Linked DNA regions of Homo sapiens. The protein of the gene in region 2 purifies or fractionates together with the protein of the main gene of each other region. This does not show direct contact. Each region holds a gene or a part of one and is shown on either strand. Other genes may lie near its edges.

Region 1 (7,000 bases), on a different chromosome or scaffold from region 2:
GGTGCTACATTGTTGATATGCAGTGAAGGTGGAGCAGGGTCTCTAAATATGAGTGAAACTGATTCTTCAACAAGTAGGTATGAATTACTGGCTGTTTTAGCCCATTCTTGCATTGCTATAAAGAAATACCTGAGACTGGTAATTTATAAAGAAAAGAAGTTTAATTGGCTCATGATTCTGCAGGCTGTACAGGAAGCATAGCACCCAAATCACTGGGCTTTGGGGATGGTCTCAGGGAGCTTTTTCAATCATGGTGGAAGGCAAAGGGGAAGCAGGCACATCATATGACAAAAGCAGGAGGGAGAGAGAGAGAGAGTGTGTGTGTGTGTTGGAGGGAGGTGCCACACTTTTATATGACCAGATTTCATGAGAACTCACTATCATGAAGATAGCACCAAGCCATAAGGGATCAGCCTCCATGATCCAAACACCTCCCACCAGGCCCCACCCCCAGCAATGGGGATTGCAATTCAACATGACATTTGGGCAGGGACAAGTATACAAACTGTACCACTGGCCTGATGAAGACACAGCCCATGGTGCCTACAAATTCTCACTACCTAGTAGGCAATTAATATTGGAAAAATTTAGATGGTTAGCGCTGGAAGGCATTCTAGAAAGCATATGGAACCACCTAGAAACTGCTCCATGACATGTAAGCCATCTCATGTGTTTCCTTCACAGGTTCCGATTCAGTGGTAGGATCCTTGGTCTTGCACTAATACACCAGTATTTGTTGGATGCCTTCTTCACACGGCCCTTTTATAAGGCTCTTCTCAGAATGTAAGAATATTTTTATTGCCTGCATAATTAGCATGTAAAATGCAGTATTTACTTTTTTGAAAAAATTCTTCTGTCAAAGTCATTGTTTATCTGTTCACAATCTCAAATTTGTTGTTATTAAACCTAATAGTGGTTTAGATTTCTGAAACTAATGCAATTTCAAATATGATTACTGTGTTTTTCCTGCCTCTGACCTATTTAGCCCCCAGATTTTTAGTTTTGCTCTACCCCCCAAAATTTATTCTCATTTGTTGCAGCATGTGTTTCTTTAAAACAATTGTACTTCAAACACAGCCCTGGGATTCCTGTGGTATTAATGCAGATTATTAATAGAATTGTTGTGGGTTAGTCTTAGTGACTCACAGCCCCCCTCTCCTTTATGAGACACATTTTATATTTGGCTTGATGCATATTTTCAAATGCTTACTCCTCGTTCAAATCTTCATTTTCCTTTGTTTTGGTTTTGTTTTTTATTTGTTTGTCAAGGGTGGACAGTGCCATATGTTTCTTAAACTTTCTCTATGCCCTTAGTAATTTATTATGGAAAATGAAAATTCAGCATTCACAGAACTTTTTCTTCATTGTTAATGAAAGATTGCAGTTATTGTAAAATGTAGGGCTAATTGTTTCTGTCCTATAATCAGCAGCCATTTACAAGGCTGAACAGAAGACAACTGTCTGTGGGATAGTAGCTCAAATTTGCGATGAGAATGCACTGAATTATCACTTGGCTCTGTCCAGCTCATACCCTAACTGAGGCCACGCACTTGCTTACTGTAAAATGGAAGCCTAGACCTCAAATGAAAGCAAACAAAATGCTTCTTGTGGGCCCTTGGGAGGGTCAGTAGAAAGACTTTTGCCTTCTTCTCTTTCAGTGTCTTCACAGCTGTAGCACTGGGGAACAGGTGCCGTTTTCTGTCTCTTTGGTTCTTTGTGGCCCACTTTGCATCTTCCCATTTCATTGCCTTATCTCTTATCTTCTCATTTAAGCTTCCTGAAAAACTAGTCTATACTGACTGTCTACACTTACCTCAAATTCACACCCTAAGCACACTTCAGCCTGGTTTCTTTCCCACCAGAAAACCTGTGGAGGCATTTAAAGAATACTGATTAGTCCGTATCTTATTGGATCATGCTGCTGCTTCTGACACTGTGCACCACCCACACCCGCCACCATTTATTCCTGTGTCTTTCCTTCAGAGCTGGCATCTATGACACTGTACTTTGCGGGTTCTTTTTTTTAACTTTTCTGTCCCTTCATGAGTCCCTCTTCTGATTTGCCCTTAAGTCTTGGTGTACCTGAAGCTTCTATCACCAGGCCCCTCGTTTTCTCACTCAGTGTGCTCTCATGGGGGAATTTCTTCTCCTGTCTTATCTCCTCTGACTCCCAAATCTGTACTCTCAGTCATGATCTCCCTTAAGGTGTAGCCTCACATGGTCAACAGTCCACCAAATATCTCCACTCGGATGTCTTACAAGGATCTCAGAATCAACATGGTTAAGACTAAGCTCATCAAGTTTCCCTACGTAAAAGTATACCTTCTCCCATATGCCCAGTTACAGTTAATAGTGCCACTATTCTCAGGCCACTCTGGTCAGAAATTGGGAGTCACCCTTAAACAGCGATGACAAATACACACGGTACATGTTCTACTCTTCCCCATCTCTACTCTACCCCATCATTCCCAGGGTAGAGTTCACAAATCACCTGTGGTACTTTTTCCCACTGAACTCACTGTGGCCTCAGAAATCTTTTTAACTTATAGTGCTCAAGCCCAGCAATTAATTACAGTTAGTTTTGACATGAGTTCGTTTGTCACCCCTGTTTTAGATATCCTTCTTTATACTCCCCCAATAAAACCATTTCCTGATTGCTACATGTTTGCCTCCTAAATGATTTTCAAATTCATCTTCTTCTCTCCAACCTTAATAGCACAGCCCTAGTTAGAGCCCTTATCTTATTTTGGCCATATTACTGTAGTGGTCTATTCATTGGTCTCTACCCTCTAATGATAACCACCCCTCATCCCACCCCATTTTAAATAATCCTTCACACTGGGACTTCCAGAGGAGCTGTTTATAATTCACATTTCACGTCTGATCATGTCATGCCCTGTCTTAAAATCTTTTGGTAGTTCTGAATCACCAATCTCCTTAGGATGATATTAAGGCCTGCTCCCTTGCTGGCCTCATTCTCTAGAAATTCTGTCTTAAGGTTAACTCTCTCAAACTGCTGATATGCTTGGAGTTTCCTGTACACATCCATGCCTTGTATTTTGTTCATGTTATTCTCTCTTTCTCCTTTCTCTTTCCCCTTCTCCTCCTTCATGTATTCCTTTTTACGTCTCTTGCTTTTAAACATCCTGAAAGATTTAATGTAGGCATCATCTTCTGCAAAAAGCTTTTCCTGAATCTCTCAGTCAAAGAAAAGGCCCCTCATGTGTGCTCTGACACCTAAATCCCTATCCCTACCTTATCTTTTCTTAAATTGAAGTGTGACATAGATTTTAAAAGTACATGAATTTTAAGTGTTACCAATCTTATGTTATCACTTATCGCTTTATATTAACTTATCTGTTTGTGTACTTGGCTCCCCAACTAGCCCATTAGCTCCTGGGGGTAGTGACTATTCATCAAGTAGCTATTCAGATGTCTGGTACATGCTTGATGCCTAATGAATGTTCAGATTGAACTGAAAAAAAATGACCCTTAAAATTGGGTTAAGGGGAGTGAAATTTCAAAACAGCTATAGCAAATCAATGACTACCACTGTACAACTGGGCCATGGAACAGTAACTTACCTCATGTCGATTCTTTCTCTACAATTAAAAAAAGTGGGGGAAAAATACAGATTGACGGCAGGTTCTGTGGCTTACTATTTTCAGAATAAGAACCATGAAGAAAAAGGGAATGTATGTGAAGATGAATCATGTCTTTAATAAAAAATAAAATAAAATAAATATTAAAATAAAAATCATGTCTTTCAATTAAAAAAAGTTAAAATATAGAAATATATAAATAATTTCAAATTAAGATAACAGTATTTTAAGGTAGTATAATATGGCCAGAAAGAATAATGGATCCAAGTTGTCAACCCGAGTGCCAGTTCCTGATCTGGCATTGATGATGGATGACTGCGCAGATGGCACTCATTCTTTGCACCTCCAGTTCTGTGTCTATAAAGGAAGACGCAGGCTGAATGATTCCTGTGGCATATTATATATTTAGGACTTTCTAATTTTATAACAAATTTCTGAATTATTTCACTGGTTTGGTTTAATTACTGGACTTGGACTAAGAACATTCCAGAAATCACTGCCTATGTAGTGGCTCTTATTCTTCTCTTTAATTCTTAGTTTCTTTCCTTATGACTCTGGGTTTTTGCTAATAGCCATGCCTACATATTTGTTTCTGTCTGTTTGTCATCTTAGTCTATGTGACCTGAGTGACCTAGAATACCTTGATGAAGAGTTCCATCAGAGCCTGCAGTGGATGAAAGACAATGATATCCATGACATCCTAGACCTCACGTTCACTGTGAACGAAGAAGTATTTGGGCAGGTGTGTGTATCTGCACACCTGGCGCCTAAGTGTGGTAACTGAAGGCTATTGATGAGTGAAGAATTAACTCCATGGCTAAGATCAGATGCTTATTTATTCGTGGTTTATTGGGTGATTTAAACTCAGGATCACACACAGTTATAATAACCGCAGTTATAAAGATTAGAATTAATGTCAGCTGCAGATTAAGATGCTGTAAATTACAGATGGTGATAACTGTTTATGTTGTAAGCAATCTTCTTTTTATTTCCAACTAAAATATCCCCCAAAATATGAGAATTTACCTTATATAGAATGCAGTTTTTTAAAGTCCACACTACAGAATTTTTTAATTGGCATTTATAGAATGGTGGCTGGGCACGGTGGCTCATGCCTGTAATCCCAGCACTTTGGGAGGCCAAGGCAGGAGGATCAGTTGAGCCTAGAAGTTCAGGACCAGCCTAGGCAACATGGTGAAACCCTATCTCTACAAAAAATACAAAAATTAGCCAGGTGTGGTGGCACATACCTGTAGTCCCAGCTACTCAGGAGGCCAAGGTGGGAGGGTCACCTGAGCTGGAGAGGTTGAGGCTGCAGTGAGCCTGGATCATGCCACTGCACTCTAGCCTGGGGGACGAGAGTGAGACCCTGTCTCAAAAAAGAAAAGAAAAATAAAGAGAACCAAAATTGATTTTTTTGAAGCTAAGGGAACATAAACAATGTTTTGGGGAAGACTTAAGAACAGAATATATTAATTTTTTTTTCAAAATTGGTGGAAGAGTAGGGAAAACGTTTCTTCCAGAAATTATATACCAGTTTATAATTAATATTCTTATTTAGGCATTAATCTTTAGCTGCTTTTCTGCATTCCATGTGTTTTGAAAAAGTTCTCAATTTAACATTCACTTGAGTGTAATTCTGCTTTAAAGTAAATCTTTACGCTAGATATAGTCAATTCTGAGAAATTTGTGAAAATGGGTTTTGTCAAACATTCAAATAGTAGCAGGCTAGTATCTGAAGCCGATTCATCGGCATTTTAAAACTTAACCTGTAGTAACAGCAATACATATATATACTTTAATCACCAAAGCTTTCAAGCACCCCCTCAATGCCTATTTTTTCCTGAGTGTGTGTGCTCCGTGAGTGCCTGGGGCCTCACTGCCAGCTTGTGGGATGTGCCTAGGGCAGGGCTGGGACAGGTAGCTGGCTGATTTCAGCTCAATGCTAGTAATGTTGTTATAACATTAAGAGTATTGCTTTGTAGTCATTCTTTTTATTTTGTAATCTCAGATAACTGAACGAGAATTAAAGCCAGGGGGTGCCAATATCCCAGTTACAGAGAAGAACAAGAAGGAGTACATCGAGAGGATGGTGAAGTGGAGGATTGAGAGGGGTGTTGTACAGCAAACAGAGAGCTTAGTGCGTGGCTTCTATGAGGTAAAGACAATCAGCAGTAGGAGGAGTTTGCAGTCTGATATCAATGATGCCACAGTCCATCTTATTGTACTTTACATGTGTAGACTATTTCTGCTGTATTTACTGTTGCTCTTTCCATGCGAAAAGTTCAGTATTTTTTCCCTTATGTTTCAAGAGCACCAAAAGAAGCTTAACTCACTGTTACGAGAGATCACTGAAATAAATGTTATGGACTGCATTCAAGTAGCATTTGTTGATTTAATGACCACTAGTAACATTTAAGCCATGCATCTTATGCTTAGATATGGGTAATCAAATCTCATGCTTGCTATGTGAAATAATTATATCTGAGATCAGAATGAGTTGGCATGTATTGTATGTGACTTTTTCTGTAGAAACACTAGATAGTTTCCTAAAGGTGGACGGGACCTAGATTAATCAGCAATCAATTATAAAACAAAAATTCTGTCAAGGCAAATCTCATCAACCTTATACTAAAGAATGCCTTATATTTGTAGGGAGCTTTACAGGTTTTCAAGTGCCAACACAAGGTACACACATATTATTCCTGAAACTCCATGTGTCCCCTTTTCTAAGGCTTAATTATAGCTGATATTTCTCCAGGCTCCTAAGCCATGCCTTGTACTCTTTTTATTCCACAGGTGGTGGATGCCAGGCTGGTATCTGTTTTTGATGCAAGAGAACTGGAATTGGTCATCGCAGGCACAGCTGAAATAGACCTAAGTGATTGGAGAAACAACACAGAATATAGAGGAGGTGAAATTTGATTTATAGATGGCTAGATTTTAAATTTCAAATTAAAGGAAGGCATGGTTCAGCTTGCCAACTGAATATAGGACAGGCAACAGCACTTGGACTCTAATCATAGGTCTGATGCAGGCTCCCTTGAGACCTTGGGCAAGGTACATTCTCTTCTTTTCCTAATTACCTCATCTGTCAGATGGGAGAAGGACTGTTTACACACCGTCAAAGGATGTCATAACTCTTAATTGTTGGTGAGGAAATGTGACCGTAAGAACACTAATTAATTACTTTATCGTGTTGTCAGTGAAGCACCAAGGAGCTAACATCCAGCTGGTCAAACTCCACCTATTCCATTTTGTTTCTAAAACTTAGAAAAGCACACCCTTTGAGCTTCCCAATCAGCACAGTTTTTCCACTGTTCACTACGCTCCTTATCAGTTGTAATTCATAGTCAGAACACTTGAATGGAATAAGACACAGTTCCCAAAATACAACA
Region 2 (7,942 bases):
TAACCTACAGAGGAGAGCCACCAGTGAATTTCTCAGTGGTGCTGGTGCCCCTCTTGTTAGCACATTCCTTATCACCTTGATAAATGGTGTATCCTGGGTTTTTCTGTTTGAGTTTTCCAGGCTTGTTTGATCTATCCACTACAGTAGGCTCACTTCTGAATCTTTTAATCCTTTCTTCTACTATTGTCACAGCAATGCTGGCATTTCAACCTCACTTAGCATGGGTCATCACTTTTTCTGTACTTCAAGGAGTCATCTAATTGTGAGACTATTCTACCTCATGTGGTCCTTGCCAGAGTGTTAAATCCTATATTCCAGAGTAGTGCTCCAAAATTGATAAACTGCCTGTTATCCCACCTTATAGACTAGCTCTCTTGATCAAGCAGTCTCAGAATTCAATTCCATGTGAACCCTTCCAGTTCCTGCCAATCCACGCTGGGTATCTTGCAGCTTTTTGACGTATAATCGCTCTTCTCCCTGATCAGGCCTCACATGTCCATGCTGTGCCTTAGCCCTTGTTATAGGCCTAATGGCAAGGAGGGGAGGGGAAAGCACATGTTGTCTTGTTGGGGAGAAGCTTTGCATGTCTGCAAGCAAGAGGATGGGGCGGGCGTGGGTACTACCAATAGGGAAATTGCACCAGTTCTATGGGCTCAGCTGGTTCAGGGAAATCTAAGGATTCAAGATTTTGGTAGCATCAATCTAGATAGCCCCAAACCATGTGTCAGGGTCTCATTCTTTCCCGGGCAGCATCCCGATTTTGACATAGCAAATGTGTGTCTATTTCTCCATTGGGAATTTACTCCTTTTTAGACCTCAATAACCACTAAATTCCATTGGTTCTTTTTGTTGTTGTTTTGTTTTGTTTCAGAGTCAGGGGCTCGCTCTGTTGCCCAGGCTGGAGTACAGTGGCATGATCATAACTCACTGCAGCCTTGAACTCCTGGGCTCAAGTGATCCTCCTACCTTGGCCTTCCATTGGTTTTATAGCTACTACTTCCTCCATATTTCTCAAACACTTGAAACATCACAGAAGATTATACGTTCCCTTTTACCATCCCAATTCACACCTGGTGGAAGTTTTAACAATAATAGGACTGCTGCCTTGTGGCAGGGGGCTATCTGTGCTCCATCCACTCTGTGGTATGGTCCTCATTGCCAACTGGGCAGTAAGTGATTTAGCTCCCAAATATCATCCAAATGCTCTGGTTTCTCTTCGGATCGTATAAATCTTTTGCCTTTTACCAAATATCATCATAGTCCCGACTTTCTTGGATCACTCCCAATTTCAAGTGTTACAGTTTGAGTTCCCCAGGAGGCAGATTCCAAGGAAGAGCTTTGTGTGCAGGGTGCTTATTAAGAGGTATTCTTAGATTAGGATCTGTGCAATGAAGTAGGTGTGGGCAGAGGGGAACACTGAGCTACAATGCAGGCTCAATAGCAGAGAGCCAACCCCACAGAGAGAATTGGAGTTAGAATGACCCTTCCCAATTGTCCCAAATTGGGTTGAGACAGTCAGGTCTTTATACCCCCTCTTTGGTCAGTTACTGTAGGCTGTCCCAGAAAAGTCTGTGACCTTGGGTAAGGCAGAGATTACCTGAAGCAATCCCTGAAGGGCTAACAGCTGAAGGCAGTCTGTCAACATTTCTCCCAGCAGCTCAGCCAACAAGTCTTTTATTGAAATGAGAGGTGGGCTGACGCATCACAGTATCCATCACAGGCATCATCTCTTTACATTAAAAATTGCCAATTAAAAGTAAAGAGTTAAGCATTTATCATGTCCTTCCTATATAAATTGTATTTCAGATTAGCCAAATAGCCATGGTTGATGAAGGTAAGTTCTATACAGAATGATCCAGTTAATAAATTAGAAGAAATTATGAGATTGACTATCATAATTTTGCAGTCCTAATAACATATTTTTTTCAGACAATGAAACCATGAAGTAAAAGGATGGTGGAGAAATTTATAGTGGAAGCTTCAGGCTGCCTCTCCCTGAAGTCACCAATGAATCTGAACATGTCTAAGTGTTGCACAGTATGTATTCCCTGATGTGATGCAATGGGAACTATACAGCACCATCTATGAGCATTCCTATTTAGAAAACATTGTACTAGACTCTAAGACTCTAGAGACAATTTATGGTTTATAGTTAAGTTACACTTTTTCCTGTAACAAGAGGAGCAAGTTAAGTAACATGAAGAAGCAAACAGACAAATGAAAATGTAGGGCATTCAACAGTCCAACTGTCTTGGTTTCTTCAACAACTCAAGGGGTTGGGCATGATGGCTCACACGTGTAATCCCAGCACTTTGGGAGGCCGAGGTGGGAGGATCACTTGAGCCCAGGAGTCCAAGAGCAGCCTGGGCAACATGGGGAGAACCCATCTCTACAAAAAAAAAAAAAAAAAAAATCAATAACATGAATAAAAAAAAAAGAGAGGGGAGACTTTTAGATTGAAATGGATTTAAGACACATAACCACGTGCAATGTGTGCACTTGGAGTCTAGATTTAAACAAACCAACTGTAAGCAGACATTTCCGAGACAATTGGGGGAAATCTGAATATGGACTGGGCCAAGCAAAGTGGCTTGCGCCTGTAATCCCAGCACTTTGGGAGGCCAAATCAGGTAGATTGCATGAGCCCAGGAGCTTGAGACCAGCCTGGGCAACGTGGCAAAACCTCGTCTCTAGAAAATATAAAAAGTAAAAAAATGACCTGGGTGTGATGGCATGTGCCTGTAGCCCCAGCTACTCAGGAAGCTGAGTTGGGAGGATTGCTTGGTCCCAGGAGGTCAAGGCTGCAGTGAGCCAAGATCGTACCACTGCACTAAAGCCTGGGTGACACAGCAAGGCCCTGTCTCAAAAAAAAAAAAAAAAAAAAAAAAGTCTGGGTATTAGAAGACAACAAAGAATTAGTATAAATTTTGTTTGGTATAAAAGTGGCATGGTGGTTATGTTTGTTAGAAAATGTCCATGTTTCTAAAGAACACTGAAGTATGTAAAATAAAATGGCATGATGTTTGAGATTTGCCCTGAAATGCTCACAGCTTACAGAAATGGAAAAAAAAAAAAAAGAAAAGAAAAAGAAAAAGAAGAAAAGGGATATAGAAAACAAGTGCCTTAGTCAGATCTGGCTGCTGTTAACAAAGTACCATAGACTAGGTTGCGTATTAACAGCAGATGATCAGGTTCTGGTACGGTCTCTCTTCTGGGTTGCAGAATTCAGACCCTTTCTTGAGTCCTCATGGAAGAAAGAGGATGAGAGAGCTTTCTGGGGTCCTTTTTATGAGGCACTAATCCCATCATGAGGGTTCCACCCTTATGACCTAATTACTTGGCAAAGGCCCCAACTCCTAATCCCAATACCTAATACCATCATATTGGGAGTTAGGATTTCAACATACAAATTTTGGCGGGGCACAAATGTTCAGTCCATTGCAGCAGGTGTGGCAGTCTTGATAATTACTGCATCTGAGTAATAAGTACATGGGATTCATTATATTGTTTTCTGTACTTTTGTGTATTTTAAAAAATTGAAGAAAAGATAACTAAAAAACAGACAAATGTAAAGCACCCAATGGGGGTAAAAAATGATGCTCAAAGGACATAAACAGGCATTTGTAGAAGAGGAGATGCAAATGTATACTAAACATTTGAAAAGATATTCAGCCTTACTGGTAGTCAGGAAAATGCAAATTAAAACAATAAGGAGATACTATTTTTTATTGAAAAGACTATCAAAAAGTTAAAAGATTGGGACCATCTAGTGCTATGAACATGACAAAAGAGCACTGATTGTTGCTGGGAGGGCAAATTGCCTATCTTACAGTATTTATTAAGATTAAACCATGCACATGCTATTAGATGCAGCAGTCTCATCTTTTGGAATTCATTCTGTGGAGATAACAGTATCAGAAATTAATGACCTGTACACGAGTGTGTGAAGGAGCATTTTTTGTATTGTCAAAATTAAAAAAAGAGGACAACCTAAATTACCATAAAGGAATGGTCAAATAAATTATAGTTCATTCATGCCATAGAACATTACATATGTTTTTAATGAATCTGTTTTTCTATTATCAGTGTATATTTATAGTATATTAGAAAACACAGGTAAGAAAAAAGGAAAAAGTGTCTAGTTCCAGACCCAGAGATATCATCTTGGTGTATATCAAGTGGTTTTCGTTGTGTGTGTGTGTGTGTATATATATATGTATGTATGTATGTGTATATGTGTGTATGCATGCATATATATATATGTATATATGTATACATATATATTTGTTTTTCCAATAGAAAAGGCATCATGCGTTCCACAATATGTTGTAACTCCTTGTTTTCTTCATTCCTTCATGAATATTTTTCTACATCAACACATACTTATCTACAAACATGGCCTTCAAGAACTGGATGGTATTTCATTTTATGCATACTTCATAACTCGACCAATCCCCTACTTGGCGGTATTTAAGTGAATCCAATTTCTCCTTTTAGAAACACCGTCCCTGCATGCTAGCAAGACTTTGGAGATAGTTTGCTAATTGCCTTCCAGAAAGTTCTGGGTGCTTCTGGAGGCATTTGAGGCAGAGTAGGTAGAATGTTTTCCCATCAGGCGAGCTTGCTATCTTCCCAGATAGCAACACTGTAGTCTTTAGAACTTGAAAGACTTGTCTTATCTTGCCTGTTAGTCATGCAGCCTAAGCGGGACTAGGTTCCAGAAATCCCATACATGCTCTCCCTCCTCTTGCTTCATTCACGCCCCTCCCCACGCGCCACCCCCGCCCCCCGCGCTTTCCCGCTCGGCGGCCTGGCCTATGGCATACGCCAATAATTAATTAGGGGCGGGGATCAAGGAGCGGCTGTCAGGAGGTCGCCATATTTCTGTACGGCCCAGAGGCAGCCCGGGCAGTCGCCGGGTCGGTAGAGGTGCTGACAGGGCGGAGCCGCCGCTTGCCTCAGCCGGCCTCACCCCTCCCGCCCGGGACAGGTGGCTGGAGCGCGCTCCGCCTCCGCCAGCTGCGAGTGGGAGCGAGGGAGGGCCGGTCCCGGACGGTCGCCGCCAGCTGCGAGTGGAAGTGAGCGAGGGCTAGTCCCGGACCGCCGGGCCAGGGGTCCGGCGGCAGCAGACGGGTACCGTGGCGGCCAAAAAAATGCTCCTGTACCGAGGGGCCCCCGCCGGCCCTGGCGCGCCGGGCTGCGGGCTGGCCCGGCCCGGCGGCGGCCCGCAGGCCTTCGGGATCCGCCTGAGCACGGTAGGTCCGGGGCCCGAGGGGGCGGACGCGCGCGCGGGCCCCTGGGCTGCGGGGGGCGCGCGGGGAGGGCCCGGCGGGCCGAGGCCTCACGCGGGTCGGGACCTTCTCTCGCCCCCAGATGAGCCCCCGCTACCTCCAGAGCAACTCCAGCAGCCACACGCGACCCTTCAGTGCCATCGCGGAGCTGCTAGGTGAGTGGCGAGGGCGGGCCCGGCCGTGTTCGCCCGAGGCAGTGGTGCCAGCGTGGTGCCGCGGACGCGAGAGGAATGCGCAGAGCCGCGCGGGGCGGGCCGGGGCTGGGGTGGGGGCCTCGGAACCGGCCCCGGCTCCGCAGGCGGAGGAGGGGGATGGCTCTCTCGCCAGGAACTAGGTTCCGCTCATAAAACGGAGGAAACGAGGTGTGTCTGAAGCGTTAAAGACACCAGTGTGGTTTTTCTCTCGCGCTCGTGACGTTCGGGCACTTTAGGATAGCTTAGTTAGTAATCAAAAGGAGATGCATAAAAACCTCGGGCCCTGAGGCAGCTGGGTCCGCAGGGGCTGGCGACCGACGGAGGATGCCTAGCTAGCAAAGGGGCGTAGAGGACCGAGGCGGGTCCTGGGGAAAGGTCTGGAAAGCGGAGTTCCTTAACTTTTGAGACAAGAAAAGTTAGGAATGATGGGACATCTCTTAAGAGATGACACGAGTGCATTTGGCTCCCTGCTACTGCGGAGGGCTGGGTCCGTGGTCCACGAGCGCCCTCACACCGCTGGAATGAATATTGAGGACTTAACCTCTCGCTCCACCGGTGTTTGCTTTTAAAGTGTTTTCAGTTGATCCCTTCAAGCCAATTACACCAGTTTTTGCAGTAGTGTGCTACTGTGTGGAAAGCAAAGAAGAAACGCAGTCCTGCACAAAACGCAGCAGCATACAGGGCGCATTATACATGCTTTGAAAATCGAAAGAAGGAAGAAGTGTTTATGGGCAAGGTTGCACAGAACAAACTCTTGAAAATGTTTTCAAAGCTCCCCAAATGAACCCCGGTCTCTACTTAAGCAGTCGCTGTGGCCATGCCATGAGAGTTATCTTGGGTAAGAAGTCAATGGGTAGCAGGGGACTTACTTGGAAGGGTGATAAGAATGATAGAGACCTTTGATGATTAACCATAACACGGAATGCTTTACAATATGTGTAATTTAATTAGAAGGTGAAAGGCAAAAAGTGGAATTGATACGTTTGGAACCCTAGAGCAGAGGGACTGTATCTTTGAGGTTTGGTACTGTGCCTTGGGGCTGTGCACTGAACCTCTGCAGAATGGAATACAATCCAAGTTAAGTATGTAATTTACAAGAAAGACTACAAGGGAGCAAAAAGTAGTGATTTACATAGTGGGGGATGGGAAAGCGAAATGTATTGTTCTCTCATGGTTGGCACGGTGCAGAACGTGATATACCTGTGCTGTGCTTACTGTACTTTCCAGGTGATTTAATGAGTTTCCAATTTGTAATTTTGGATATTTGTGATTTTGGCCATAAGCATTACCTTAAAGAACCTAAGCCGGATCTAAGACGTCCAGTATGAGCGCGAGTATGTGTATGTATTATGCACACACATGCATGCATACATGTATACAAACATAGATTTTAAGACCAAATAACAACTATTTGTGAAAATATTAATAATAGGGAAAAGAGAGAGCAAAGTGTTAACTGGCAATCCAAAGCTTTCATTTTAGGTTTTCCTTCAATCATTTTCTCCACTTAAGCATTAATTTTCTAGTGAATCATTCATTTGGTAAATATTTATTGAGCACCCACTGTGCGCAAGGCCACTGTGGTAGGCACAAAAATGAATACAACACAGATTCACTCTTCTAGTAGGGGAGATAAAACATGTACAGAAGGTTTATGCTTTGTCTAACAACAAAATGGAAATCGATATATAAACAAAGATAAAAACAAGTGCTGTGGGAGTTCAGAGGAAGGAGGAATGGCTTCCAGTTTATCAGGAAGAGGAAGGTTAGGAAAGGCTTTGTGGAGGAGGTGACATTTAAGCTGAGATTTGAAGGATTGGGACATGTGGATATGGGCGGGGAGGAATTCCAGGCAAAAGGAACAACTGCTTGAACAAAGGCATGAAGAATATTGAGTGGAGTTTAATTAGAGCATGGGGTTCACAAATAGTAAAAACGATAGGTACTTAAAAAGTTTACAAGCAGCTTTCACAAATAACTTTTTAACATTACCATTTGAGGTAAACATTTATTTTCATCCTGCAGATGAAGAAAAAGAGGTTCAGAAAATTTAGTTGACTTTTCCAAGGTTACATATATACTAAGTAGCAGATCCAGGACTCAAACACAGGCCTTTTTACGCCAGATACTAAGTAAGGATGAGGTTAAAAAGGTCATCTGGGATCAGGATGTGATTGGGAGGCTCCAATATCTGGCTTTTTAGCCTGAAGTTTTCTGAGCAGGGGAATGTCATGATCAGAGCTGTGCTTCAGGAAAGTCAGTCTTGCAGCAGTGTATACAATTGAAGGAGAGAGATACGGATTTATATGACAGGAGGTTATTGCAATAATCCAGATGAGAGGAAATAAACTCTGTAAGAGACTGACAATGGAAATAGAGTAAATAGGATATGAGAACGTCTAGGGATGCATAGGGTAAAGGAGAGGGAGGGATAAGAAAATTACTTAAATTTCAAAT

The links.
Region 1: the proteins of MORC4 (region 2) and HECW2 purify together in Homo sapiens (affinity purification with western blotting; 2 studies listed by BioGRID, with this or other methods). This does not show direct contact.

The regions. Positions count from the first base shown.
Region 1 is NC_000002.12:196,219,555-196,226,554, reverse strand, and holds part of HECW2 (E3 ubiquitin-protein ligase HECW2), read left to right. Parts: intron 1-684; coding exon 685-783; intron 784-4,214; coding exon 4,215-4,344; intron 4,345-5,613; coding exon 5,614-5,760; intron 5,761-6,401; coding exon 6,402-6,516; intron 6,517-7,000. UniProt on the Homo sapiens protein: E3 ubiquitin-protein ligase that mediates ubiquitination of TP73. Acts to stabilize TP73 and enhance activation of transcription by TP73. Involved in the regulation of mitotic metaphase/anaphase transition.
Region 2 is NC_000023.11:106,997,181-107,005,122, reverse strand, and holds the start of MORC4 (MORC family CW-type zinc finger protein 4), read left to right. Parts: upstream 1-4,910; 5' UTR 4,911-5,153; coding exon 5,154-5,255; intron 5,256-5,373; coding exon 5,374-5,446; intron 5,447-7,942. UniProt on the Homo sapiens protein: Histone methylation reader which binds to non-methylated (H3K4me0), monomethylated (H3K4me1), dimethylated (H3K4me2) and trimethylated (H3K4me3) 'Lys-4' on histone H3. The order of binding preference is H3K4me3 > H3K4me2 > H3K4me1 > H3K4me0.